4 linked regions of the Homo sapiens genome follow. The protein of the gene in region 1 interacts with the protein of each later gene in a biochemical or structural test. Each region holds a gene or a part of one and is shown on either strand. Other genes may lie near its edges.

The links.
Region 2: the proteins of RUNX1 (region 1) and SPEN interact in a test that uses a peptide from one of them, tested with the Homo sapiens proteins (one study listed by BioGRID).
Region 3: the proteins of RUNX1 (region 1) and RNF38 form a complex in vitro, tested with the Homo sapiens proteins (one study listed by BioGRID).
Region 4: of the proteins of RUNX1 (region 1) and HIPK2, one has a biochemical effect on the other in vitro, tested with the Homo sapiens proteins (one study listed by BioGRID and IntAct).

Annotation. Positions count from the first base shown.
Region 1 is NC_000021.9:35,039,301-35,046,330, forward strand, and holds part of RUNX1 (runt-related transcription factor 1), read right to left. Parts: intron 127-7,030; exon of another isoform or gene 1-126.
Region 2 is NC_000001.11:15,934,684-15,940,963, reverse strand, and holds the end of SPEN (msx2-interacting protein), read right to left. Parts: coding exon 4,698-6,280; intron 3,802-4,697; coding exon 3,319-3,801; intron 3,153-3,318; coding exon 2,958-3,152; intron 2,247-2,957; coding exon 2,088-2,246; intron 1,669-2,087; coding exon 1,537-1,668; 3' UTR 508-1,536; downstream 1-507. UniProt on the Homo sapiens protein: May serve as a nuclear matrix platform that organizes and integrates transcriptional responses. In osteoblasts, supports transcription activation: synergizes with RUNX2 to enhance FGFR2-mediated activation of the osteocalcin FGF-responsive element (OCFRE).
Region 3 is NC_000009.12:36,335,870-36,341,269, forward strand, and holds the end of RNF38 (E3 ubiquitin-protein ligase RNF38), read right to left. Parts: intron 3,946-5,400; coding exon 3,883-3,945; 3' UTR 531-3,882; downstream 1-530. UniProt on the Homo sapiens protein: Acts as an E3 ubiquitin-protein ligase able to ubiquitinate p53/TP53 which promotes its relocalization to discrete foci associated with PML nuclear bodies. Exhibits preference for UBE2D2 as a E2 enzyme.
Region 4 is NC_000007.14:139,774,969-139,782,909, forward strand, and holds the start of HIPK2 (homeodomain-interacting protein kinase 2), read right to left. Parts: upstream 3,031-7,941; 5' UTR 2,656-3,030; coding exon 2,637-2,655; intron 1,180-2,636; exon of another isoform or gene 1-1,179.

The sequences.
Region 1 (7,030 bases):
TTCGGACTCTGGCACCAACCAGCTATGGAACCCTGGGCAAGTGAACCTCTCTGGTGCCCTAAGGTAGAGAAATGTCTAAAAATCACTCCAGCCAAATATTCGGCTCTTCCTTTCTAGCAGTTTAAAAATATTTATAATTATAGATTTTAAAAAATAAAGTTATATAATTTTTAGATGCCAACTGAAACTATACAGAACTATATATATACATAACTCTATATAACTCTATGACACAGCACATAAAACTTACAAAGCATCATATAGAACAATGTCTCATAGTTCATATGTCTCAGGGTTCACTTATTTTTTAAACAGATTTATTCACATCTGTAATACAATTATTTCTTTGTTTTGAATACAACCTGGAGGGAAGCATATGGGAGACACAGCCTTTATTTAAAAAAATGAAGTAATGATATGGAATGATTGACAGTTGGATAGAATTTTCATTGTCGGCACTTCTACTTCTTTATATGACCCTGCACCTTTCACAGTGCTAATATTTGTTTAAGGTTGCTTAACGTTGTTCCTCTCCTCTAGAACTTTGGAAGTAAAAGCCATTCTCATCTTTAGAAACAGTAGATTCAATAATAATAAATAATAATAAACTAGAAGCCTGAGTTTCTGTTCCTACCTGTCAGTCAATGCCTAAATAATTTCATTTTCACCCATTCACCCATTCATTACATGAAAGGGGCTGGGATAAGAGAGAACACTCCTGAAGGGGAGGACTACTTTTTCTCCTCCTTTTAGTTCCTACCCACTCTTGCATGGGTTTTATACACATATGTGGTTTCAGATTTTATGAATTCTATACTTTCAAAGTGGGTGAATGTCAAGTTCAGCTGTGACTGTTACCGAGCTGGATGAAGCTGCCCAGATGCAGCCTGCAGATGGTGTGGAATGAGGGGCTCAGTGCACAGAGTTCAAAGTGCAAACAGAAGCTGTGTAAGAAAGTGCAGCAAACTGTGGTTGGTGTTAAAACTGCTCCTGAAAAAAATGGCACTCAAACCAATGTATCTTAGTTGACCTAAACTCTCTTTTGCACATTCTGGGGCAGTAATAAGAAACAAACATTGATAGCTATACATATTATAAAATTTTGCACAGTAAAAGGGGAAGTGCTTCTCTCTTGAGCAATGAGTGCCACTCTGACATTTTTTGTCTCCCTTAAAAAACTCACCTAGGATGGGCCGGGTGCAGTGGCTCATACCTGTAATCCCAGCATTTTGGGAGGCTGAGGCGGGCAGATCACGAGGTCGGGAGATCGAAACCATCCTGGCCAACATGGTGAAAACCTGTCTCTACTAAAAATACAAAAATTAGCCGGGCGTGGTGGCACACACCTGTAATCCCAGCTACTCAGGAGGCTGAGGCAGGAGAATGGCTGAACGTGGGAGGCGGAGATTGCAGTGAGCTGAGATGGGGCCACTGCACTCCAGCCTGGTGACAGAGCTAGTAGACTCCATCCAAAAAAAAAAAAAAAAAAAAAAACCAACAACAAAAACTCACCCACAATGGAATGTGACTATGGAATACCCTGCGGTGTGTTCAGAGCTCTGACTTCTGTTTGCTCTTTTTAACATAACCCCCATCTGGCAAGCTGACTGCTGCAAGATTTTCTGGGTCTTTCTTTAGGATCTACTAACAATGAAAAACATATATATGAAAACCTACACATTTTCAGAAGCACATGAGAGCTGATCAAGACCCACGTACCTCCCAAGGAGAGGAGATGACAGAGGCTGCTCTGTGGTGTTGCTCTCAGGCTATATTTGATTTATTGCTCAAATCTTATTATTTCATTCTCCATTCGAGACTAGCAAAGTTTCTTTTGAGAAGTCACAGTCTCTACGGAGGGTATTCTAACGCCCAGAAGTAAAAGTTGGATGTTGGCAAAGAAAGCAAAGTAGAATCTTTGCAAAATGTTGGAGCTGCATAGTTCTCTCTCCCAATGGACATGTTTCAAGACTGAATACGTTGAGTATTTGATTTAGAATCAATTTAACATGAACTTCGCATTTATGCAAAGCAGCATCAGTCCTGAGATCAGCAGAGCGATTGAGCAAGCCCAACTAGCAAACTGAGATTTCTATTTGTGATGACCTTTCCCATTTGAGGCCCCAAAAATGTCTTGGGGAACTCATTGTTTAAAAAGAAGTCCATCAAAAAATGGACACATATGGACCATGGCATGGGAGGGCAGTGCTGCATACAAAATCAACAATTCTCTAAATGAACACCGATCTTGCAGAAAAACAAAATGAAAGCAAAACAAAAAGAAATTTCTAATTTCAAGAGAAAAACTGAATAACAACTTTCTTTTCATTCATCCTTTCTTTCTTCTTTTTCTTTCTTTCTTTTTTTTTTTTTTTTTAACGAAGCAATGACTTTCTCAGGGAGAAAGATTTGCATCCATGCTGAGGAAATAGACAGGGCCAGTAATCACACAGCAACAATCATCTGTAACTTGCAGAAATTCAATGTATGAATAAGTGTTTAAAGCCTAGATAGAGGGCAATTATCTGGTTATCTGTTTTTCATATTTCTATCAGAGATAAAAACCTCTTTAGGGAAATTTATGAAGGGCCATTTGAAAGAAGGTTTCCCTCTTTTGTAGAAAAGAATTCTCTTAAAAATTAAAACAAATTTGGGAGGCTGGGGGATTTTTGAGAGTTTAAAAGAGTGAGGAAGATGGGGGGCGGGAAGCAACTATTTCCAGCTGCGAGAAACCGATCAACCTCACAGCAAGGTGTGGTGGCTCTGATGCAAGCAACATTCCCATAGATACAGGGCTGTCTGGTTTTCTATTGCTCATTCTAACTTGAGGAGACGCTCAAGTGTGATTTGGGGCTTTGACACTGAAAATAGGTGTGAACTTGGATCCATTTAACCTAGCCCCTTCCCCCACCTCATCCCTTCTCCTGTCCAGTTTGCTTTCAATGGGTCAACAATAAATATTCACCCTTGGCATCCATCTGCAACTTCCAAGAGGGAATGAAGGAAGAACATAAAGTTTCTCTGCATTTGTTTCCAAAGCCCAGCTGGCACAGAAAACAAATGATACAAGATATGACTGGGAAGGCACACAGCCTGTCTTTGTCACCAGGTCTGGCAGATGTGGCTCTGGGTTCACGAGACATCTGCTCCCAGCTACCTTCCTCTCTGCTTCCCTCCACTCTCCAGGCTGGAAAGTGACAACTCCATTGTCCTCAGTTCCCTCCAGCCAGAGGCCTGTGACCTAGTTGTGGCCTAAGCAATATGTCAGCGAAAGTTTGCAGAGAAGGGCTTCCCTTCCTGAATAAAAATACCAGGACCCACAAGAAGGGGTTGAGGCCTCCCATGTCCTTTCTGCCTGGACAGATCAGAGGTGCAGGCCATCTCTCCCTGGCCTCAGCATGGTGGGACCAAAACATAGGAGTGTCCTGCACCCCACCGTATCAGCCTGGACTGCTCACTCTGGAACTCCTGCCCGTCTGCTCAAGCCACTGTGGTCAGCTTTTCTCTACGTGCAGCCAAACATAATTTTCATGGGTAAACCTGAGCAAGGGCCTTACTCTTTCTGTCACTGCAATAAAATACATAATTTCCGTCATGTTTCGGATTTAGTGTTTATTCCTCCACCTTGGCTCCTTTCTGGCATCATTACTCAGTGTTATTGCAAGATGAGGGAGGGAGAGAAAGAGAGAGATTCAGAGAGCCAAGAGAGTATAACACGTGTCTCCCCAACAAAGAGTGAAGCCTGCGCAAGTGAGAGCAGTGTGTCTGAGCTTATCCTCCCAGCATGTTGAAGGTGACAGGAGGTTTTGAGCCCTGTTTTGTGTTCAAGAGCCAGCCTGTGTTCTCGTAAAGTACTCCCTGATTGTGTTCACGGTCAGCAAAGATCTCAAAGGAAATGCTCCCTTTTTACCACTCCAGGACATCCTAGTTATTATATTTTATGAGAGGGAAGAGGTCAAGAAAGACATACCTCTTTGCCTTGGCTGGAGGCTCAGCAAAAAGGCTAAAGAAGGGGACTGGTGGCATCTGATGGGGAGGAGCAGGGGAGGCCGAGAAACAAGAGTTGTGGGAAAAGTGCTTTGAACATTTTAATATCTGTTCAGGCACCAGTGTAGCTTCTGAAGATTTCTTGAAAAATGGGAGTTGGAGAAAGCAATTACGAAAATGAGGGAAAATATCTTGCATTTGTGAAATGATGGGAGAACTATTTTCTAAACAGAAAATAAAATATTTTTAAGTGGCTTTGTGTTATTAAGCTAAGAAGATTTGTGATGTGTTTTATGGTACCTCTTTCTGATGCATGTAAAGACTTCCAACAGGAACTTGGTAATTTAGATGCAAGCTTGTCTAGAATATTATTAGCCCATTTTGCAGAACTCAAATGAGACACAAAGACATCTATTGACTCATCTAGGTCACTAGGAAGTTACCTGAGAAACTGAAAATTTGCTTGAGTTTCCTGTGTGGGCCTCCTCTGCTGCCTCCAACAAGACAAGCCATCAAAGCTACCTTCATGTCTGGGCTTTGACAAAGTACATGATTACAAATGTTCCCAAGGAGCAGGGAAAATGGGAGTCTCTCAGAGGCCCAGAGAACCTGCTCAAAGGTATACAGGCAAAATGGCCTTTTCCTTAAGAAGAGCCTTGGAGAAAATAAAGCTACACCAGCAGTCTCAATGAAAAGAGACATCTCTGTTGTCCTTGTGTGTTCAGATCAAAGACTTAGCATGACATCCTGCCCCAACTAGCCTCCATATTTAAAATCAAAACTTGTTAAGTTGAATTTCATAAAGGGCTCTCGTTCTTTTTCCACAAGGGAAGGAAGGCTGACCTGCTGGTGAAAAGCCCTTAGGGTGGACTGAGTTACCCACTGCTGTCCATGCCCATGTGGGATCCTGCAGCTCTAACTTTGCCCAGGCTGTACTCTCGGCCTAGACCACTCTTCCTTCTTTCCTTTGTTCCCAACTTCCCCTCCCCCAACTCCTGTGTCCCTCTCTCCAGGGAGCCTCCTGTAATGTCCTCCAGGGCATTGTGACCTCTCCCTCCCTAGAGCAGACAGCGGTTGACTGGCTGCCTTCTTAGATAACTGAACATTGATAGCCACCATTCAGATTTATTGCTTACTTTATATGGCTGGGCAAAGCACCTTACACAGATTAATTCGGTCCACACAGCTACCTTAATAACAGGTACTATTGCAATCCTTACTCTGCAGATGAGGAAACTAAGGCTCAAGAGAGAAGTTCTATATGCTATTTGATGAAAGCCAGAAAAAAGAAAAGAAAGAAAAGGCCATCACTGTGTCATCTGAGCACATTCCCTGCACAGACCTCCTGCCATTGCTTTCTCTAATAGCAGGTGCTCTTATGCCTCCAGACTCTTCTCTCTAGGCCTTGGGCTCCTTATTAAAGTCTGTGTGTGCACAGCGGCTGTGCAGCCGTCCTCTGTCCCAGCATCTCACCAGGCTTGATTTCTCAGTAAAGGGCTACATATTTTCTGAGCACATCTTTCGGATCTATTTTGAGAGAATGTAGGAACGTCTCAGCTACTCATTTGCTTTCAAAAGCTCAGAAAGGCTTCTTGCCATTCAGAATCGGGTCAGTTGCTGTTTCCAAAGGTGCTTCTGCTACTGGTTGCTCCATGCCCCTGTACTCGGTGTGTGAGCAGCTGTGGGGCCTCCTACAGCCCCCTAAACCCCACTAATAAAGTCAGTCTGAAGTACAAAGACAATCCTCCCCAAGAAAGCAGAGCCAAGAGGAGGTTTCTTTGGGGCGGCTGCCATTTGCTCTTTTAACACTTAAACATTTCAAAATTACTCGTCATTTTCTACAGTTTCTTAGCGTGCAAAAAGTCTAAATGGCAAAGGCATGATTGTGAGTTTAGATAGTTTTATCACACCTTTTTTTTTTATAGTTTCAAAATGTGTGGGCAGTTTCAGATGTGAAACTCCATCTCACAAAGGAGGAACTACAGTCTGATTCTTTAACATCCAAGAGAGCAGCCAGGATGCCCCATCCCACAGTTTCCTTGTGGGCCAGGGTGGGTCAGATTTGCTAAGACCCACTGTTAGGGACTGCAGTATGTCTCCCTAGAATTAATACATTGAAGTCCTAACCCCAAGGTGCTCATAATTTGACACTATTTGGACATAGGGTTTTAAAATGACGTCATTAGGCTAGCCCCAATACAATGCAATTGGTATCCTTATAAGAAGAGATTAGGATACAGACACACACAGAGGGATAACCATGTGATGAAACAGGGAGAAGGGAGCTGTCTGCAAAACCAAGGAGAGAGGCCTCACCAGAAATCAGCCTTGCCGACACCTTGATCTCACACCTCCAGTCTCCCTCCAGAACTGTGTGAAAATAAATTTCTGTGGCTTAAGCCTGAAGTCTTAAGATCTTAAGTGTTCAGTCAAGCCAGAAGAAGTGTCTTAATAAATATTCTTCTGAAAAGAGCGGCAAGCCGATGCTTAGAGAAGAACATACTTTATACATGCAGCTTTGTACTTGGCAATTCCCTTTGAAAGACTGCTTCAGTGGGGTAAACTTGAACCGCTGAGAAGACAAGCAGGGAGTCGGTCTCGCTGAGATTTTTACCTGTGGTTCTAGGAACGCAGAGGCATGTGAGTGTTCAGGCTTTGCATAGACCACTAAGCCACTTCTAAGAACAAGGCTACCTGAGCCATTTTGCAAAAATATGTACGTGCCGAGGCTTTTCCTCCCCACACCTACCTCAACTCTTTCTGCCGACACACTGCACTTTTCAAGGGAACCCAAGTTTGGGTTCGGCAAGAATTGTACGTTGCACACCGTGTGTGATAATTCCAGGGAATTTCAATCGCATCTTGTCTTCCTTCCTAAGCAAATTCGGTGGGAACCTGGTGTGGTGTGATAGAAAAAGCCCCGAGTTCTCTGTGGTAGACCACATCAATTTCATGTGCCAGTCTCTCAGACTCCGGCTTGCCTCTCTCAAGGAAGGGAACAATGGTTTGCTTGGCTTCACTCCTCTCTTTCCCCCCAATTTCC
Region 2 (6,280 bases), on another chromosome or scaffold:
ATCCAGCTGCAGGGGAAGCCTGTCCCCAACTCCCATTCTCCTGTCTGGAGGCAGAGACGGGATCAAATGAGCCCCCAGGGGCCCCAGGAGGCCACTGCCTCTGCAGGAGTCAGCCTGCTTCACACTGGGAGAAGGGAAGAGGGGGCAAGAGAGAGACAAGAAACCAAAGCTTGCTAAAATGTTTCTGAGATGGCATGGGGTGTGGTTATATTCTGTATCAAAATTGGAAGTGCCTTCCTTCCACATTACCTAAGAACCAGTTAGGACTCTGAAGACACCACAAGAGTGAGAAATGGTTAAGTTCAGTGTCCGTGACAAAAATCTCCTTTGTACAAGATAAAATTATCCTTGGGGAGGAGGACTGACTGACTAGGAGGCAGAAGGGAAACAGTTCCCATGTACAGACTTGGCATGGGGATCAAAAGCGGGATGAGGGCTGACTGTTCCCATAAGCCAAGGACCCATGGTTCGTCCTCCCACCCAAGTGACAATCACACTCACACTTGGTGTGTTTTATATTTTTTAATAAAGTTTGTAATCCAATGGACACACAAAACAAAACTGCGCTGAGAAAAACAGTTTCATAAATTAATAAGTGTTAGGAAGTTGGGGGAAGAGATCAAGGTAATAGGAAGAGGGGTTAGCCAGTCTTTTTGTACAGGTGCCGTGTGACACTTCCACATCGCGGGAGCAGGACCCGTGCTGTACCGAAGCGCACTTATACAAATGAGTGGGCAATACAAAGTCTGAATATGAAAATAAGATTTCCTCTGAAAACACATTTTTGGCACAGATTAAAAAAAACGTATGTCGGGGGATTTGATTTTTTAAGTCAGTATTATATATATTTATATATATTATATATTTATATATACACACATCCCAAGTTCTGCATATCCCACCAAGAGAAAACCTTTCTGTTTGCTCTTCAACTGTAAACTGTACATCCCGGTGAATCAAAGACGGTGGCAGCAGGAGAATTAAGGTGACGCATCCAAATGAGCAAGGGAGATGGGGGTGGACAAAAAAAACCAATGAAATGTTCCTTGACCCCAAGGTCTCAGCAGAAGTTTGAAGTCCTTCCTGCGTTAAGAGTCTGCAATGTGTGTCTACACACACCAAGACATCCAGAGTGTCACAGCCTGTCTTCACTGGGCAAAAGTCCAAGTCACTAATTTAGTGCAAAGGCAGTTCTGTTTTCTTGTTTCTTAAAAACAAACAAACAAAAAATTTTCATTCCACTGCCCTGTTCCTTTTCTCCAAAAAGAGGAAAGAGAAACCCAGCCCCGGTGTCTGCGAGTCCATGGGTTGGTGATGTGTCCTTGGGCTAAAGCATTATGTAAACATACAAGGTAGCAGCACCACTCCTAGAGGAAGTCTGGCCGACTGAGCCGGGCGGCAGGACAGCAAACGGCTGGCCGTCTGGCAGTGGAGTCTGTCCCCTTCGGCAGCTTCTTCCTCTGCTTGGCTGGGTTGTCCTTTGTTTTTACTGCAGAGCCCTGGGAAGATTCACTGAGGTGATAACCACTCAGTGGCTCACACGGAGGCAATGACAATCATGAGGTGGGGAGAGATGTTGGAGATGCTGGCAAGGAGGTCAGGGGCCAGGCGGGACAGGTGACTCTCAGAGAACTCACAGGGCGGGAAGATCTGCAGCACGTAGGCAGGCTGGAGACAGGATAGAGAGCAAAGTGGGACCGTCTGTCTTCACCCCCACAACTCCACTTCCATTGGGGAGCCCTGAAGAGGCCCAATGCTAAGAGCCAGGCCAAATCAGTCCCCAACCAGCAAATGTGCCAGGACTATGTCTACTGGAAGACCTAGCAGGTGTCAGAAAACTATAAACAGGAACCCCCTGGGGCCCTATCTTTAAACTCATGGAAAACCTGTGTTCTCAGCGGTTCCCTGGGTTCTCTTCAGGATGGGTGATGGCGCCCCGCCCCATGTGCTCTACTGACTTCTGTCCAAAATGCCCCTTTGCCCACCTCTGGGGCCAGATCTAGTGGGCACCAGATGAGTAGGCCCACCTACCCTGATCAGCCCCACCTGTGGGTGTACATGTGAAGGAAGGACACAGGACAACCGACCTGATTGGAGCCAGGGTTGGGAACGTTGATGATCCCTGCCGCCTGCTTGGCCTGCAGGTAAGTGATGAAGGCAGCCTTGAGGGACTCGGTCTGGCTCACAACATCCTCTTGGTCACGGCCACAGGGCAGAGCCAGCAGCAGACAGTAATCTGTCTCCACCTGAGGCAGAGGCCAGCTGCCAGTGAGCAGGGGCCTCCTAGTCAAACAGCAGCCCACATCCAACCCACAGTATCAGGTCCACAAAAACCCCCACCTCTGAGATGACTTTAAAGGCTACCCTGATATTTGAATGAAAAAAAAAAAAAAAAAAAGCTTTTTTTCAACCTGAGAAAGCTGATTTAAAAAATAATAATTTTTAAAAACTGTAAAGCCTTGTTTCTGGGTCTAGAGGTACTTTACATCCCCCCACCAAGTAGAAGCATAGTGGACCCTTCATTGCTCACTTCAAGAATACCGTTACTGGCCAGGCACAGTGGCTCAGGCCTGTAATCCCAGCACTTTGGGAGGCCAAGGCAGCCAGATCACTTGAGGTCAGGAGTTCAAGGCTGGCCTGGCCAACATGGTGAAACCCCATCTCTACTAAAAATACAAAAAATTAGCTGGGCATGGTGGTGCCATGGTGGTGCGTGCCTATAATCCCAGCTACTCAGGAGGCTGAGGCAAGAGAATGGCTTGAACCCGGGAGGCAGAGGCTATAATGAACAGAGATCGCACCGCTGCACTCCAGCCCAGGCGACAGAGACTGTTTCAACAACAACAAGAATACAGTTAATGCTTCCATGACAGGCCAGGGAGATGGGCTGGCAGGGACTACCTACGTCTTCCTCCCTGTAGGTGGGGCAGTTGCTCACCTGGGCCTGAGAGTCTTACCGTCATCCTTCGGGCAACCCCTTCCAGCTGCGTTGCCTCCAGCCGCATCCTCTGGGCGATCCTTAGTGGGGGCCCTCCTTCAGAAAGGGGCAGGGACCGATGGGCCAGGACGTTGTTGCCAGAGACGAAGTGGAGCTGCACAGCAGCTGTGTCATTCTTGAGGGCCAGCAGGCCCTGCCACACGATGGGGTACTTCTGCTCACAGGGAAACAAACAGGAAGTGAGCTCATGGCCCCTCGCTGAGCCATGCTGGACACAGCCAGAGGCTGTAGCTTGTGGGTCTGTTAACTAGGGAATCTTAGGACATTTGACATGGCATAAAACTTGGGGGCCAGGAAGGGCAGCCCCTGCTCATGCTTACCTTCAGAAGTTGAACCATATCCACGGGTCTCTGGGAAGTCAGGTGTGGAGAGGAATCTTGTTTGGGGGCTGGCTGGAATTCAGTGTGTGGCAGAACCAGTCCTGGTGGGGTGCTGGGGCCAGAGGTTGTTGGGACAAACAACGGCTGTTTTGGGGCAGTCTGAGTGGGAAGAGAGACTGGAAGGTCAGGCTTCATGGAGACAGACACAGGGGAGGGGAAGGAAGTCGGGCCTGTTTCTGCTTGTGCCCTCTGAACCTGGGTGTGAGGCTCAGGTGGCCTGTTTGCAGGTCCAGCTGGGAGGCGAGGCTGCTCTACTCCCGTCTGGGTCCCCTTTGCCTCCTGGGACACTTGAGGCATCTTGCTGCTTGGTGGCTGGCCGGGCTGACCGAGCTGGGAGGGCGGGCAGGGTGGTGCAGGCTGGGCAGGCTGTGTGGACTGCACAGGCTGAGGAGGCTGCAGGGGCTCACCTTCAGGAGGAGGGCCCTGGTGTAGGGAAGGAAGGCAAAGGGACAGAGTCAGTCTGTTGTGCACAAGCCCCTGAGACCAACAAATGACCCAAAGGGCCACAGGGAAAGGATAAGATGTGGCATCTCCCGTTAAGTCAGGCCCACAGAAGGAGCCTGAATCAACGGAGCTGCTTTCGGGGTTCCAGGTAAGGAGAGATCCCCTATTACCTGCCTCCTGCTGATGCTACCCAGCAAGAGCTCCCTCCCCATATGCAGAACTCCCCATGATGTGATCTAATACTTTCATCTCAGAACTAAGAAAGCTCTTTAAACTCATGAAAAGATCAACATCTTTAGGGACTAGCTGACCAGTTCACTTGTACTCAACCACTATCTTTACCAAAAGGCGGATTTCTTTTTCTTTAAGTAGGGACAGAGTTTCACCATGTTGGCCAAGCTGGTCTTGAACTCCTGACCTCAAGTGATCTGCCAGCCCTGGCCTCCCAAAGTGTTGGGATTACAGGCGTGAGCCACTATGCCCGGCTTTTTTTTTTTTTGAGACTGGGTCTCGCTCTGTCACTGGAGCCTAGTGGCACGACCTTGGTTCAATGCAACCTCTGCCTCCAGGGCTCAAGCAATTTTCCCACCTCAGCCTCCCAGGTAGCTGAAACCACAGGTGTGTGCCACCACACCTGGCTAATTTTTGTAATTTTTTTTTTTTGTACGAGATGGGGTTTTGCCATGTTGCCCAGGCTGGTCTCGAACTCCCGGGCTTAAGCAGTCCTCCCATCTGGGCCTCCCACAGTGCTGGGATTACAGGCATAAGCCACCACACCTGGCCCCTGATTTCTTTCACACATCTTGGCTTAAAAGCCTGCTGAGCCCCACAAGCACATGCCCAACAGACAGTGGGGAGATACCTGGCTGGCTCACCTGAGCAGCTGTCTTGGTCCGGGAAGGCAGGCCAACAGAGGAAGCGGCGGGAAACTGAGTGTGTGTGAGCTGGGCCGGGGGGTGGTAGGTGCGGATGTCGCCGTACCGGTACTCTTGAAACAGCTCCCCGCTGGAGTGCACAATCTGCACCCCATGGGTCACCACCACAGGAGGGGTCAGAGGCAGCCCCTGGAGTTGGTTACTGGGGGTAACTGTGAGGATACGGGCCTCACCATGAGGGGCAGGAGCAGGGGCAGGAAGGGGGACAGGGACAGGGACGGGGGCAGGGGTGGGGGTGGGGGCAGCTTTGGCATCTGGTGTCTTGGCAGCTTCCTTCCCTGGCTGCTGAGGGGCCTTGCTGGCTGGTGGCACCTTCACCACCCCATCCGCGGCCCTGGGCTGCTCGCTGACTGCCGTCACATGTGGATGCACCATGATCCTCACATCCCGTGGCACAGTATAGGGGTGCAGTCGGTACTCAGACTGCATGACTAGTACCTCTGACTGCACAGGGGCTGTGGCTCGAGCGACAGGAAGGTGATAATGCACTTCCTCCTCGGGAGGGTGCTGGGAGGCCAGTGCAGGCACACCAGCTGGGGCTGGCTGCGGGGTGCTGGCACGCTGTGGGGCCCTGACCTCTATTTGCTGGGGCTGCAGCGGAGCCCGAGGAGAGTGAAGCGCTTCTGGCCGGATGCTGTAGGTGATACTGGGCAGCGTGGGAGTGTTCATTCTCACCTCGCCCTGGGAGAGGTGGCTCAGGGACACAGTCTGGGTGATGCTGTGGGGTGGCATGATGACAGACTGCTCTGGGTGGATGCTGGAGATGAACTGGGGCACTGGGATGCCTGCAGCCAGCATGACTGTGGCGTTGGTGGAGAGCGCCGTAGATGCAGTACTGCTGGGGTGGCTTGCCCTTGGGAATGAGGATGGCCCGGGTCCACTTGGTCGAGGAGAATGAGCATCTAGCTTTGCAGCTGCCAAATGGGAGACAGTTCGATCTGCTGGGATGCTGGGCCCCGAGGGGACATGGTTGACTTCTGTAGGCAGTTTGCTGGGCAGAGCAGGAGGGTGGTGGGGCGTGAGCGTGGACCCCAGGTTGGCCGGCTGAAGGACCTTGGTCTCGATTTTAAGGGTGACGGGGTCAGCAAGCTTCTTGTTTGTGGTGACAATGCTTGGGGTGAGGACCAGCTGGTTGTGAACCAGCACAGGGGGTGTGTTGATCCCCTGGGTGAGAACCTTCACTGTGCCTCCCTGGGTGACAGGCGTGGACACCGAGAGGTGAATGGGCTCGGGCTTCTCCAAGGATGGCCTATCGGCCTTCACAGACGAAATCACAGGAGAGGCATTATATGTCTGGGCGGTCAGTACCAACGTGGAATGGGTGGCCACGTTCGCATAGCCTGCAGGAGCTTGAGGGCCTTTGGATGGAGGCTGCGATGCTGTGACAGAATCAGGTTTGACCTGGGACTTGGACACTGACTGCTGAAATTCAATGTCCATTGCACTGGCCGGGGGGATCTGGCTGATCTTGGCGCTGATCCGCTGTGGGCCTTCGGTCTTCTGCCCTGAGTAACTCAGGAGCA
Region 3 (5,400 bases), on another chromosome or scaffold:
GCCTTTATAAAAATATAAATATGGCCGGGCGCGGTGGCTCACGCCTATAATCCCAGCACTTTGGGAGGCTGAGGTGGGTGGATCACGAGGTCAGGAGTTCAAGACCAGCCTGGCCAAAATGGTGAAACCCTGTCTCTACTAAAAATACAAAAATTAGCCAGGCACAGTGGCGGGATCCCAGCTACTTGGGAGACTGAGGCAGGAGAATCGCTTGAACCAGGGCTGCAGAGGTTACAGTGAGCTGAGATTGAGCACCCCAGCATGGGTGACAGAGTGAGATTCTGTCTCAAAAAAAAAAAAAAAAAAAAATATATATATATATATATATATAAAATATATAAATATGTACCATATGTTACAACGCTAGTTACTTTTGCATTTCTAAGTTGTTTACACAAATGCAGAAATACAGAATCTGGCAGCCAGTAATTCAACCCAGCTCTATCTTCCTGCTGCTATCTATCTCTCCATCCCCATGCATATACAACCCTTCCCCATCCCTAACACAGTGACATGAAACACAACAGATGTTTTAAGTGTACATCATACATTTATTACCAACAACCCTCTCAACTCCAAAATTGGGCACAGGGATTAAAAATAAAAATTCATTGCACTACTTAGTAAAGCATTACTAGTAACTTTCATAAAAAATGTACAAACTTTGTTAAAAATTTATCAAGCCTTCAAATGATTTGGTTACAGATATTTATAATACATACATTTAAAACTATATGTTAACTGATACAATGGAATATGATTTGAGAAAATGACTCAGCAAATGATTCCAAAAAACACCCCTGTGAGCTTTCACAATCTGAAACGGCAAAATGAGGTAACCAAATGTACCAACAGGGGGACAAACAAACAGCTTTCTAATGAAAAGGCCCAAAGATAATCTGTGAAAAATATTCTCACAAGTGAGTCGGTAGATCTCATTCAAAATTATTCTAAGAGGCCCAAATTTAAGAATCTTAACAAATCACATTTCAGATAGTATATAAAATCTAAATATGCTTTCACATTTTCCAGATTTTGCTCAAAAAATTAAGGACAGAAAATCCTAATATGAGATCTTGATACCTGGAGGCCTTATTTTTTTGAGGGGCTGGGGGTTAAAAAAACACCAAAGATGACAATTCATGCCAAAAAACAAACAAGAACCCACAAAAAACCCACAGCTGAGTTAAGATGGTAAAGCCAATATTATTTTAGGAGGAAAGAGGACGAAGGCCAATGAACCAACATCTGCCTGCTATCTGGTGCATCACCCAAGGTGACCAATGGCTGGGCACAAATAAACTTCTCTTTTGCTAGCCACAGAGTTGCTCACTGTGGCAAGCCTGAGCTGGTCAGAACACCTGTGTGTGTGTTCCTGATACACACTAACCACAATAAGCAAGTCTGCACACATCTCTATGAGCCCCATGCAAAGACAAGACATTCCCAAAGATCAGTCACTAGAGTGCAACAACGAAATTCAAGATTTGACCAAAACAGACCCTGCTGCCTCCTAAATTGCCAATTGCCTCTCAAAAACTTACAGAAAAAGGGACATTATAAGAATTCATAGAGGGAGAGAAGAAAAAGCTGCTACTCCTAGTCATTAGTACAATGTGCTGTGTTAATTAGATACCTCTATATAAATTAGAAAAAGTGCTTTACTTGCATGCTTCAATAAAATGAATACTGAGTGTCGTAGTGTTAGATCTGTACAGATATAAATTTTTTGCAGCTATATAAAAGTGTATAAGATGGGCTTTTGCCATTTTAAACATGATTTTTTTTCATTAAAAAAGATTAAACTATATGTGATTTGTATGTAGCTGATTATTATGCCAAGAATTTTGGTCTTTAACACACTTTTTATTCATCAGGAACAGGTGAGGGATATCCTAATGATTTAAAAGTAACATGTGCATTAACCATGTGCATTTTTACCACTATTTAGAAGTATTTCTGATGCACTGACAACCCTAGGGGCAAACACAGTATGCAAAACCCTACTTGTAGGACTAGATAGAGGCAACAATGTCTCGCAAAGGGCAAAATTGTGCTTCTGTGAATTGACTTTACTTAACTCTAGGCTGTGATGAGCTTATAGACACTTCAAGGGAGGGCAAGCAGCATGGCAGTAACAAGTAGTTAACACTGAATGGAAAACTGACACAGAGCCAACTGAAAGTTGAGTGGGGCTGGCAGCAAGTTATCACAGTCCTGACTGGAATAATGCAGCTTGTGCTATTGCAAACAAAGCAATTACATCAACTGCAGGAAGAGGCAGACAATGTTGAATACACTAAAAGAATGAGAAAGTAATTTAAACATTGCTGGAAAAATGACTTTAAAGTGAATTATGCTCAAAGAACTTACTAAAAAAAACCCCATACAGCTATGTATTACATCAACTAAATGAAGGTCAACTCCTGTTTAACAGCATTATTTTTTTATACAAAAACCAAATCTTCATTTATACTGCAAGTATTCTGGACACCTGTTGTATTAAACTTTTCTCATTCAAACAAAAATTAAAAGGAAAGGCAGTAAAATATCAAAACAAATCAGGTCTAAGGAACATGAGCTGTAACAGCACTTGATCCATCCTGAAACCAGGGTTTCGATGAGAAGCACGTGTGATGAAGGAAGAACTAGACAACTTTCAGAATTGGAGTCTGGCAAGTGAATTAATATGAACAGAAATAGAGTTTTCTTAAAACAATTGAGTTGCCCACAGGAGCTTGAACACAGAACACATATGAGAAGTCAAGCTGAATTAACAGGTTTTGTTCTGGTGGAAGTCAACAAGGTGAGACTTCATGGGACTAGTGGTCTTCTTAGAAATATATTAATCAAATATCTTCAGAATAGACTAGACTACAAATCTAAACATTAAAAAAAATCACAGGTACTTTCTGTAAGAAACTTACTGGAAATGTAAAGGAAAAAAAAGTATCAACATTCAAATCACTGATTGAAATGCTAATATTGCTAACTGATGATATATGATATTGCACCTTCTTTTTGGAAACAGCAAGTTGGAGATTTAAAAATTTCCACAACAGAATAAAAAAAAACCAGGTTCATGGAGCGAGAATTTGTTACACTTTTTTTTCTTAAGTGACCCACTTAGGACCACCAATAAAGAGAAGGTGACAGCTGCCTGAAGCAAAGGAAGAAGGCTTTTCTCATTCCATTCACTGGGAGGGAAGGGGATGGAGTATTCAATGCTTGTAATTGATGCACCCTCAGCAATCAGTGTGCAACAGCAAACACAAGGGAAAAAAACCAGTGTACAGTACTAGTGCTGTTTAAATAACACACCAGATTATACATTGCAGCATAATTAAAACTACACACACATTCTTGGTACATGCTGGTATATAGGATCTCATACACACGTTAGCTACCATGCCCTCACACAAGTAGTTGCACACACTCACACAGATACACTTATCACCAACAGTCATACGCTGCGCATTCATTTCCACTCACAGTTTCTGAAGGCTCTATATAAGGTAGATTGCTATATCATCTGTAGCTACCACTTTTTATAAAAGCACATGCTAAAAGATCACGTCCACTGTAATCTTGCAGCAACACTCGGAATGATCACACAAAAACCAGGGAATGTTAGTGCACACACAAAATTAAGCTAAAGAAAAAGTCTTTGGAGTTCCAATCACACGGTTAGTATAACAATCCCATAACTGTGAAGACTAATTGTAAGCTTTTATAGTTGATTAAGTCACACAGTGCAAAGAAAGGTCCATTGACCCTTTTGGTAAAGGGAGGGCTGGAAGCCACACAGATTAAGTTCAATGGATAGTCCGTATATACATGTGATGAGGAACACCCAAACTAAATTTGTGCTTCTTAGGTTGGTCATTCTGAATCCCGATGCACTTCTGAAGCATCAGCTCGGCAAATTGGGCAAGTACGATTTGCCTACAAAACAAAAAGGAAAACTTGTTTAAATTGTGACACATACAATGAAACACATTCAAAGCAATGGAACTACTTTTACTTCCCACAGTTTTTACATTCTTTCTTCCTCTGAAGAGGTACAAAGCAATTTTTGCCTTTTTTTAACCCATAAACCTCCGAATTAGCCCAGGAATTTTTTTTTTGAGATGGAGTTTCGCTCTTGTTGCCCAGGCTGGAGTGCAATGGCACGATCTCAACTCACTGCAACCACTGCCTCCTGGGTTCAAGCGATTCTCCCGTCTCAGCCTCCCGAGCAGCTGAGATTACAGGTGCCCACCACCATGCCTGGCTAATTTTTGTATTTTAGTAGAGACGGGGTTTCACCATGTTGGTCAGGCTGGTCTCAAACTCCTGACCTCGGGTGATCCACCCACCATGGCCTCCCAAGGTGCTGGGATTACAGGCGTGAGCCACTGCGCCTGGCCGCCATGAATGATTTTTAGTAGGTCTGTTAAAATATATAAACAAGATTACCATTGACCAGTTTGGACCAAGTTAACAACTGACATTAAAGTAAAAGCTTGGTTAGTCTTTTTTTCCCCCGTTTTTTGAGACAGGGTTAAACCCTGTTGCCCACAGGAGCACAGTGGCATGACTACAGCTCACTACAGACTTGAACTCCTGGGCCTAAGTGATCCTCCTGCTTCAGCTTCCTGAAAACCTAGGATTAACAGGTGTGTGCCACCACACCCAACCAATTTAAAAGACGGGTTTCACTAAGTTGCCCAGGCTGGTCTCAAACTCCAGGCCTCAAATGATCCTCCTGCCTTTGCCTCCCAAAATGTTGGGATTACATGCCTGAGTCACCATTCCTGGCCCCTTGGCTATTCTTAATGGAATGAAGTCACAGAAAACATTTAGTGGTACCGAGGAAAGCTTGATTGTAAAATAGGTGACTGACTCTATACTGATAGCTCTACTTACTCACCTGTTCCCTGGCTCCTAAATTTGCTTTCTCCATTTCAACAAATGGGACCATAATTTGTGGAGTTGCTAATGCCAGACACATAAGCATCACCTGCTCTCCTACTTCCTACAACCCCATTATTCAGCACATAATCTTATTTCTGCATTACAGTAATTCTCAAATCAGTCCCTCTTTTCATCTAGTTGCTACTATCCATTCTCTGGCCCACCATGTCTTTATTCTATCTCCCTGTCTCTCAGAAATTACCTCTTTTATTAGAACAGTGGCCAGAAATCCTTCTATAAAACAGTCTGTTATATACTTCCCAAATGCTTTCAGGATCACACTAAACTCCTTTACGCTTCAGAGTGGCTTCACAACAAGCCGCTCATTGATTTTATCTCTGAACACCTTTTCTTTTCCCACTCTTCCTCACATTCCAACTATCAGCCACACGGAACTTGTGGTTTTCTGATTCTCTGTCCGCACGTGTCAGGGATTTACACATA
Region 4 (7,941 bases), on another chromosome or scaffold:
CCCTTGTTTCAAAAACAGCATTTCTGTCTAAATCTCTGGCGGTTCAGAACGCTCCATTAATGTATCTGGGCCTTCACCTGGTATTCCAACTTGGTGCAGCAGCACCCCATTGAAACAATTCCCTCTCGTGTCGTTATACTTTTCCTGAGAAGAATCATGCACACTCTTTAGGAGCTCAAAACCCACAAGGAATCCCTCTTCTTATAGAAATCTACAGGAAAAGCTCTGCTCGTTTAGCATGCACACAGGGAGTCCATGTGCTCTGATTGAGACAGGGGAAAAATCAGGTTTCCTGAACCCAGAGGATGTCACCACGGCAGGAGAAAGGAGGTCATCAGAGTCTTGGCACACTCATCACAGTGAGTGAATGCGGGTCCTAGCAACCTAATCCTTGATTCTAGAAGTCACCTGTCTGTTTTAGAGCATGTCCAACAATCTCTTTCAAAAACACCCAGATCTGGGCTTTTGGCAGACTGATGTGGGCCAGTTGAGGTGGGATGGGGAGGAAGATTAGAAAAATAATTATAAAGGTGCACAGATAAACATCCGGAATAAAAGGGTGCACAGCGCAGGAACAATGAAGAGGGCACACGGACAAGATGGAGGGAAACTGAGGGCTGAAAGAGGCCACCGCGGAGGTCACCTGAGACAGGGAAGGAAGGCTGGCAAATAAAAACAGTTCATGAGACTTTTGAGATCCATGATTATTCTTAAACCGTAACACCCTACACACCTGCAGTTCTTTATCTGGCGTAAGGAACTGGAAGAACAATGTAGCAGGAACGGGGAGAGCCAAGTCTCAGCCTCGGGGGCATGGCCTACCTTCCATATGGATTTAAAATGAAAGGAGCAGGAGGAGAACAGTGCAGTTCCCAAGATGGCTTTCCACAAAGTTGACAAAATACACCCCAACTCACATACCCGGTCCCTAGTAACAGGGAAACCAGCCGTTTACTATAGTTCTGAATTCAATGCCAAGTTCCTTCTCTCAACTCACCGGGAGTGTCCAGCAGAGGGAGTCTCAAGGAGGTACTTAATAAAGAGAAAATTGTTTCATTTTAACACTCTAGACAGTGGGAGCATTGACTGTAGCCCCCTCCTGTAGACGCAGATGAACAATGAACGCCCGACATGGGTTCTCCCGCATGTTCACATGTCCACCGGCATGTTCTATTCTGCGTGGTGGAGTGATCAGAAATTTCGTTTTGTTTTGTCGAATGGTTAAATGGACCTTGTGTTCTTCAGAATCAAAGAGGAAAGCCCCTGGAATAACATCTCTCTGTTGCCTTCTAAACAGCCCCTTTGTTTCTAAGAGAGTCTGAAAAAAAAATATTTACAGTCTATAGGTTATTTACAGCCTCGTTATCCAGGGCCTGACTGGTAACTTTATTCCGGCCAGAAACCTAATTCATTTGGAGCCCTGAAACTAATAACAGATTTTCTTTTAAGTTTTTTTTTTTTTAATCAGCCTCTTATAACAGAGATAAAACTATTAATGCCTTCCCTGTCTCACTGGCCACAACTGTTCTCCGGATTTACAGGAGGATTACATTCCCCCCTCGTGCCCTCCTCTGTGCCACACAAACCCTGTCCCCTCTCATTTGCGATTTCATCCACAGAATATCTGAACAAAACCGAAAGAAAGCCGGGGGACCCACGCTAAAAGTATGTGAAGGCTGCGATTTCAATGATTTCATGAGACAAACATTTACACGATGAAACGACTGAAAAATCAGACACACTTGGGTTTAAAATTTCTCCTACTACAAGCACACAAAAACACATCGAAGTGTAAAAACTTAGTTGATTCTGGGTTGCTTTCTGGCTGGAAGCTGACAGAACGGACTGAAGAGAAACGAAAGACAGTGTGCGAGGCAGACCTACTGCTTTTCTGCCTTGCGTTCTTTTCTTTCTTGCTAAAGGCAGTCAAATGGGGAAAAATACCCCGATGCCAGGTGAAGGTGCACAACACAGATCGACCCAGACCGAGCCAGAAAAACGTCTCCGCCGCTCCCCCGGCTGGAAAACCCAAAGTCCACGTCCCCTTCCACACGCTAATGAGGGGAGATTTTCGCCTATTTCATTGTTCTGCCTGGCTCTGACATGGACTTTTCATCTCTCTCCTCTCTCCCCACCTAGCCCCGTGCATTCCGATTCCACAGCCCCCCCAAAATCGGAGGCTCGCGGAGAATAAAGGAGCGTGGGGTGGGCGCGGAAAGAAATGGGAAGGGGCGCGGGGCGGAGAGCGAAGTGGAAAGGAGGTGCTCCGAAAGGTAATGTGGGGGGGCGGTGGAAGCTAAGCCGCATCACCTTCATTTATCGCAAATAAATAAAAAGCACAGTCACCGGTCCGCCTTCCCCGGCGTCCCTGCCCTCCCCGGGCAGCCGCCCACCCTCGCACACGCCCCCTCCCCTCCTGCGCCCCCGGCCCCTCTCCCCGCCCTGGAAGCAAGACCCTGCCGGCGCCGGGTCCCGGTCATCTTCCGGGCGAGGGAGGGGGTCGCGGCCCCCTCGGGCCCCGGGTGGGGGCTGGGGCAGGCGCCGGGGGCTGCGGGCGCGGGGCCGCGGGCAGAACAAAGCTGCGGGGGCCGCGGAGGGCGGCGGGCGCGGGGTCGGCGGGGCCGGGCGCCCCTTACCTTCGTACACGGGGGCCATCGGGGCCGGGGTGTCCGCGGTTCATGGCAACGGGGACGGGAAAGCGGCGCGCGAGCTCGGCCCCCCCAGCCTCAGTCGGAATCTGCCATCTTGAGCCTGTGTCTCCGCTCTCGGCGCAGCCGAGGCCGCCCGCGCCCGCATCACCGCCTCCCGTGGCCGGCGCCGGGGGAGGGGGCCGGGCGCGCCGCCGCCGCCGCCGCCGCCGCTGCCGCCCGGGCCCGGCGCGGGGGGCTCGGGGCTCGGGGCTCGGGGCGGCCGGGCGGGCGGAGCGGCCGAGGCCGAGGCGCCGAGCGGCCGCGGCCCCCGAGCGGATCCGCGGAGGGGCGGGAGCCGGGGGCAGCGCGCGGCCAGGGCCGGCGGGGCTCAGCTCAGCATGGCTGGGCGCGGGGGCTCCGCAAAAGTTGCTGGCGGAGGGGGGCGGCGGGCGGGGGCGGGGGCGGGGCGCGGGGCCGGGAGAGCCACAGGGAGTCCGCGCGCAATCGAGCGCCGATGGCACGGATGCGAGGCGGGGAAGGCCGAACCGAAGGGCAGAGCCGCGCCGGCGGCCCGAGGGGACCGCGCTGGGAGGGGCTGCCGCGCAGCGCGGGGGGACTGGGCGCAGGGCGGGCCCCGGGTAGTGGGTGAGAGGGCCGGCCTGGACCCGGCGGGCGCACGGCTCCGAGCCCAGCGCAGCCGAGCCGGTCTGCAGAGGGGCCCCCAGAACTTTGTGTGTGTGTGTGCACGCGCGCGCGTGTGTGCCCAGGTGCGAGGGTTCGCGCGTGTGCTGGCGGGGAGGGAACCGACCCGAAAGAGAGCCCCACGCTGGCAAAGTGGCTCGCCCATCTCACAGCCGGTTGGCGCTCGCGGAGGTAGGAGTGGAATGAATGAATGAAGGAGTGGGCGCGCGCCGTGCTCCGGAGGAGGGCGGGTGAGTGGAGGAGCTTCGGAAAGCCACACGAGGTCAGAGGCACCGAAGCCCTGCCGTGCACGCCGCGGAAATGCAGCCCCCGGGGTGGTCGCTGGGTTCCTGCCGGAGTCTGGCTTCCACGCCACCCTGATCTTCTCCTCCTCGCGTCTACACTGTCCCGAGGGCCGCCACTCCATCACTTGAATGGGAGCTCACAACTCTCTGGGTCCTCGCTTTTCTCAGCGCTCTCTCCTATCAGGGCTTCCGCTAAACACTCTCCAGACTCTCCCCAGCCGGGAGCCTCTCCAGGTTTGCTTCTCCAGCTGCCTCCCGGATGCTTGGATAGGATGCCCTGCCATCCCCTCCAACTTAGGAAGACTTGTTGAGTCTCCTCTTAGGCACTGTTTTTAAAACTGTGGGTCGTGACACAGTAATAGATCATAAAATAAATGCAGCGGAAGGCAACCAGCTTTCAAAAAGAACGAAATGGAATCCAATAGAAAATATTAGAGTCCATTGCCCTTAGTAAGGGCAACTATTGTTTCATAAACCTTTTGTTTCGATTATAGGTACTGGACAAGTGTACTGGACCATGATGTCAATTTTATTTCCGTCTGTGAATCGTGGGTTTAAAAAAGTTGAAAAGCTATCTGTGTAAAATAATGATCTCTAACACTGTATAACTTTCTTAAAAACAACCTCGTGATTTTCTCACTACTTCTTATCCTTTCCGGTCTCCATCCTCCGTTCCCATCCTTCAGTCCTTCCCAAAAAAGGCAAGCTCTTTCACACTTTTTTAGTGGTACATCACGACACCTTCCTCTGTGTGATCTTGTACTCTGCGGTCTTCCTTGCCCCCATAATCAATGCTACACTTCCTATCCCTTCTCTTAACCTAATGCCATTCACGTTTGCAGAATCCTAGACTACTGTTGCTAAAAGGACCTCAGAGGTCATCTGGGCCAGCCCTGCCCTTTTAGAGTTGAAGAAATGGAGTCCAGAGAAGTAAAATCTGTTGCCCAATGTCACACAGTATTGAAGCTTAGGAATAGGTCTCGTGGCTCCCACTCTAGTGTTTTTTGCTCCACACCGGTCATTTATCTCCTTCCCTTCTATCCTCCCTGCAATCTTTAACTTTAGTCTTGGCCCAGGTCATCCTAAATATTGCCATCTTCATAATACGTGGTTCTGGCCATGCCACGCTCCTGGCTAACATCCTCTAAGGACTCAACCTCTGCAGGTGGGGCTGAGTGCCTTGGCTTTTCATCAAGGCAGGCGAGTCCTGACTTAGCTTTCTAAGGACATGAGTTCAGCAAGTCACTGCTTCTCTAGCCAAACTGGTTTACTTGTAGCCCAGTGCCAGCTTCACCCATCTCTGTCACTGTGCCTTTGCCCAAGCGGTCACTTTCCCACCCACTTTCCCAGAGGGGTACCTTCTCCATCTTCTCTCTTTAAGCAGATTCTACCTGTGCCTGGCTCACCTCCTCCACAAAACAGCCCGAGATAGCGTGGGAGTAAGTCAGACCTAGGTTCAAATCCTAGCTCTTCCACTTAACTATGTGATCTTGGTCAAAATGCTTAACCTCTCTGAGCCTCAGTGTCTGTATTTTGATTATGAGAAGGAGAACAATAGTAATGTTCTCCTTTTGCATCTGTAAATCTCTATCATAGCCTTCACCACACAGGTATGTAACTCCCTGTTAATACATACCCTACATGCATGTCTCTCTGCCCCTTTCTAGTGCTGGCCATTAGAACTTGCTGCCATAATGGCAGTGTAGCTACTTATGTCTGTGGAGCACATGAAATGTGGCTAGTATGACTGAGGAACTGAATTTTTAATTTTAATAACCATGGGTGGTTAGTGGCTACCATTTTGGACAAGGTGTCTCTAGACTGTAAGCTCAGTAAGGACAGAAACCATGTTTTTCTTGTTTTGGATTGTATGTCCAATAACTGCATTGCCTAACGCATGGTGAGTACTGCACACATATTTGTTGAATGGATGATAGCTGCAATTTGTTGCATGCTCCCTTGTGTCCAGCACAACACTACAAACTCGATAAAAGGCATTTCATATAGTCCTCATCACAGCCTCTGAGGCTGGGTTAGATTAGAGAGAGAGTTTTATATAGAGGGCAGACACATAGTAGGGGTTCAATAAAAGTTATTATTATTCTAACTCCTCCCTCTGACCAGCCCCACTGACTTTTGTCTCATCTTTCCTTAGGCTCACAGAACATTTCCTGCCTGTTGCTCACACTCTGTTGTCCACAGCATACCCGCACCCTAGATGGCTGACTCTTGTCTTCTGTGTAGGTACCCTGTGTTCATAACTGGATTGGCAGCGTCTTGGAGCAAGGCCCTGCTTTATAGGACTGCCCCTGAATTCAGCACTGACCAGTGTTCAGTAACTGCCTCTAAGTCCATCCCAGCTGCTGTCTAGCAGTGAGTGATTCTAGGCAGTCTTAAAATGAATATCACTTGTGTCAACCGAAAACATTTTACAGGTAGTCTCCTCCCCATAAGAAGGGAACAATCTTGGGCAAGGAAATAGAGTCCCATGGAAGGGGAACAAGATGGAGCCATACAGACAGAGGTCCACCTTCTCTTCAGACCACCATGACTGAAGCTGTATCCATGAGATGCAAAACATGCATTCAATTGAGCTAGCGAAGTTCGTATGATATAACGGAAAAATATTCTTGAAATGAGCTTAGATTTTCCTTCATGAATTGGCAGACTGAGTATACTAATTGTCTCCTTTCCTTCCGGTGACTGCAGTCAAGTGGCAGCAAGGTATAAACCTAACAGTGAAATGTCACTGAAGGAGAGCATGGGAGCTGGGAGGAGAGAGGATCTGTGACAGAACCTGGGGAGTACCAGTATTTGAGACATGGGAAGAGGAAAAAGAGCTCCCCATGGACAAGAGGGCAGAGAAGTTGGAGGACAGCCAGGACGGGGGATTCCTCAACATCCCAGCAAGGTCAACAGTGCTGCATGCTATTGAGAGGCCCACGTCAGATGAAAGCAGAAAAGCAGCTGGGTGCTGTGGCTCACGCCTGTAATCCCAGCACTTTGGGAGGCTGAGGCAGGCAGATCACCTGAGGTCAAGAGTTTGAGACCAGCCTGGCCAACATGATGAAACTCCATCTCTACTAAAAACACAAAAAAAATTAGCCAGACGTGGCGGTGGGCACCTGTAATCCCAGCTACTTGGGAGGCTGAGATAGGATAATCGCTTGAACCCAGGAGGCAGAGGTTGCAGTGAGCCGAGTTCTAGTGCCATTGCACTCTAGCCTAGGCAACAAGAGCTAAATTCCATCTCAAAAAAAAAAAAAAAAAAAAAAAGGCAGAAAGGCATCAATTGGATTTAGCAACAAGAGTTGCATTAGTGACTTTGGTGAAACTAGTTTGGAGGGAAATACAGGTTTCTTAAATTCTACCTGAATATGTGTCCTGTTTTATGGGTGGAGATAGTAGAAGGATGGGGAGGGCTAAGGAGGTACCAGAAAAGAGCACCAGAGATTGCTCCAAGCAGAGAGGGCCTTACCAGTCATGGGCCTGAGACAATGAGAGGGGTCTGGGAGCTGTCCCATTTGGCTAGAGATAGTGTGCATTGTATTTTATTTATTTAATAAGCACATTAGCAGTCAGTGTTCTAAGGAGTTTAATCAATCATTTAAAAAAATCACTTTTTTTTTTTTTTAACAGTACATGGAACTCTAGGTTGCCAAAATACCATTTAACTTCAGGGTGCATTGAAGAACAATAATAAAGGCAAGAAAACTGGAAAGGATTTAGTAACCATTTATACCAGTTACCTCTCCTTAATTTGCCTTTCTACAAAATGGTGCAAGTCATATCTTTCTCAGGAGTTGGTAGAGTGAACATGGGGGAGCTTTGACCTCATTTCAAGTTCATTTTGCTTACAGGACATGGAACAAAGGGTCTTTTTTTTTTCATGTATGCCTATAGTTGTGAAACTGCACAACATCACAATATCTTCAAGGCCACAGGATAGAGATAACCCTCTTTTTGGTGTATGCATTTAGGTGTGTATGTCTCTCTTACTCTCAGGGTATTCTTAGCATGATGTCTGTGTGGCTTGTATCTTATTCTCACTTGGTGTGTGTTGCTCTTATTTTCCTGACAGCTCTTTATTTTCCATGTGTGAGCCTGTGCCTGTGGTTTATCTCTGGAGGATGTGCCTGAGGGAGGTAGGTCACTATCTCAAGTTCTGTCTTTTGATATCACACCTCTCTTTTGGTCTCTTGCTGTATCTCTATTTTCCTCTCTTTCTGACTGTGTGTCTAATTTTCTTTTTCTCTGTATCTTTCTATCTTTTCCACACATTCTTTATTTCTTCTTCCTCTCCCTTTATTTTAATTCTGTTTCTT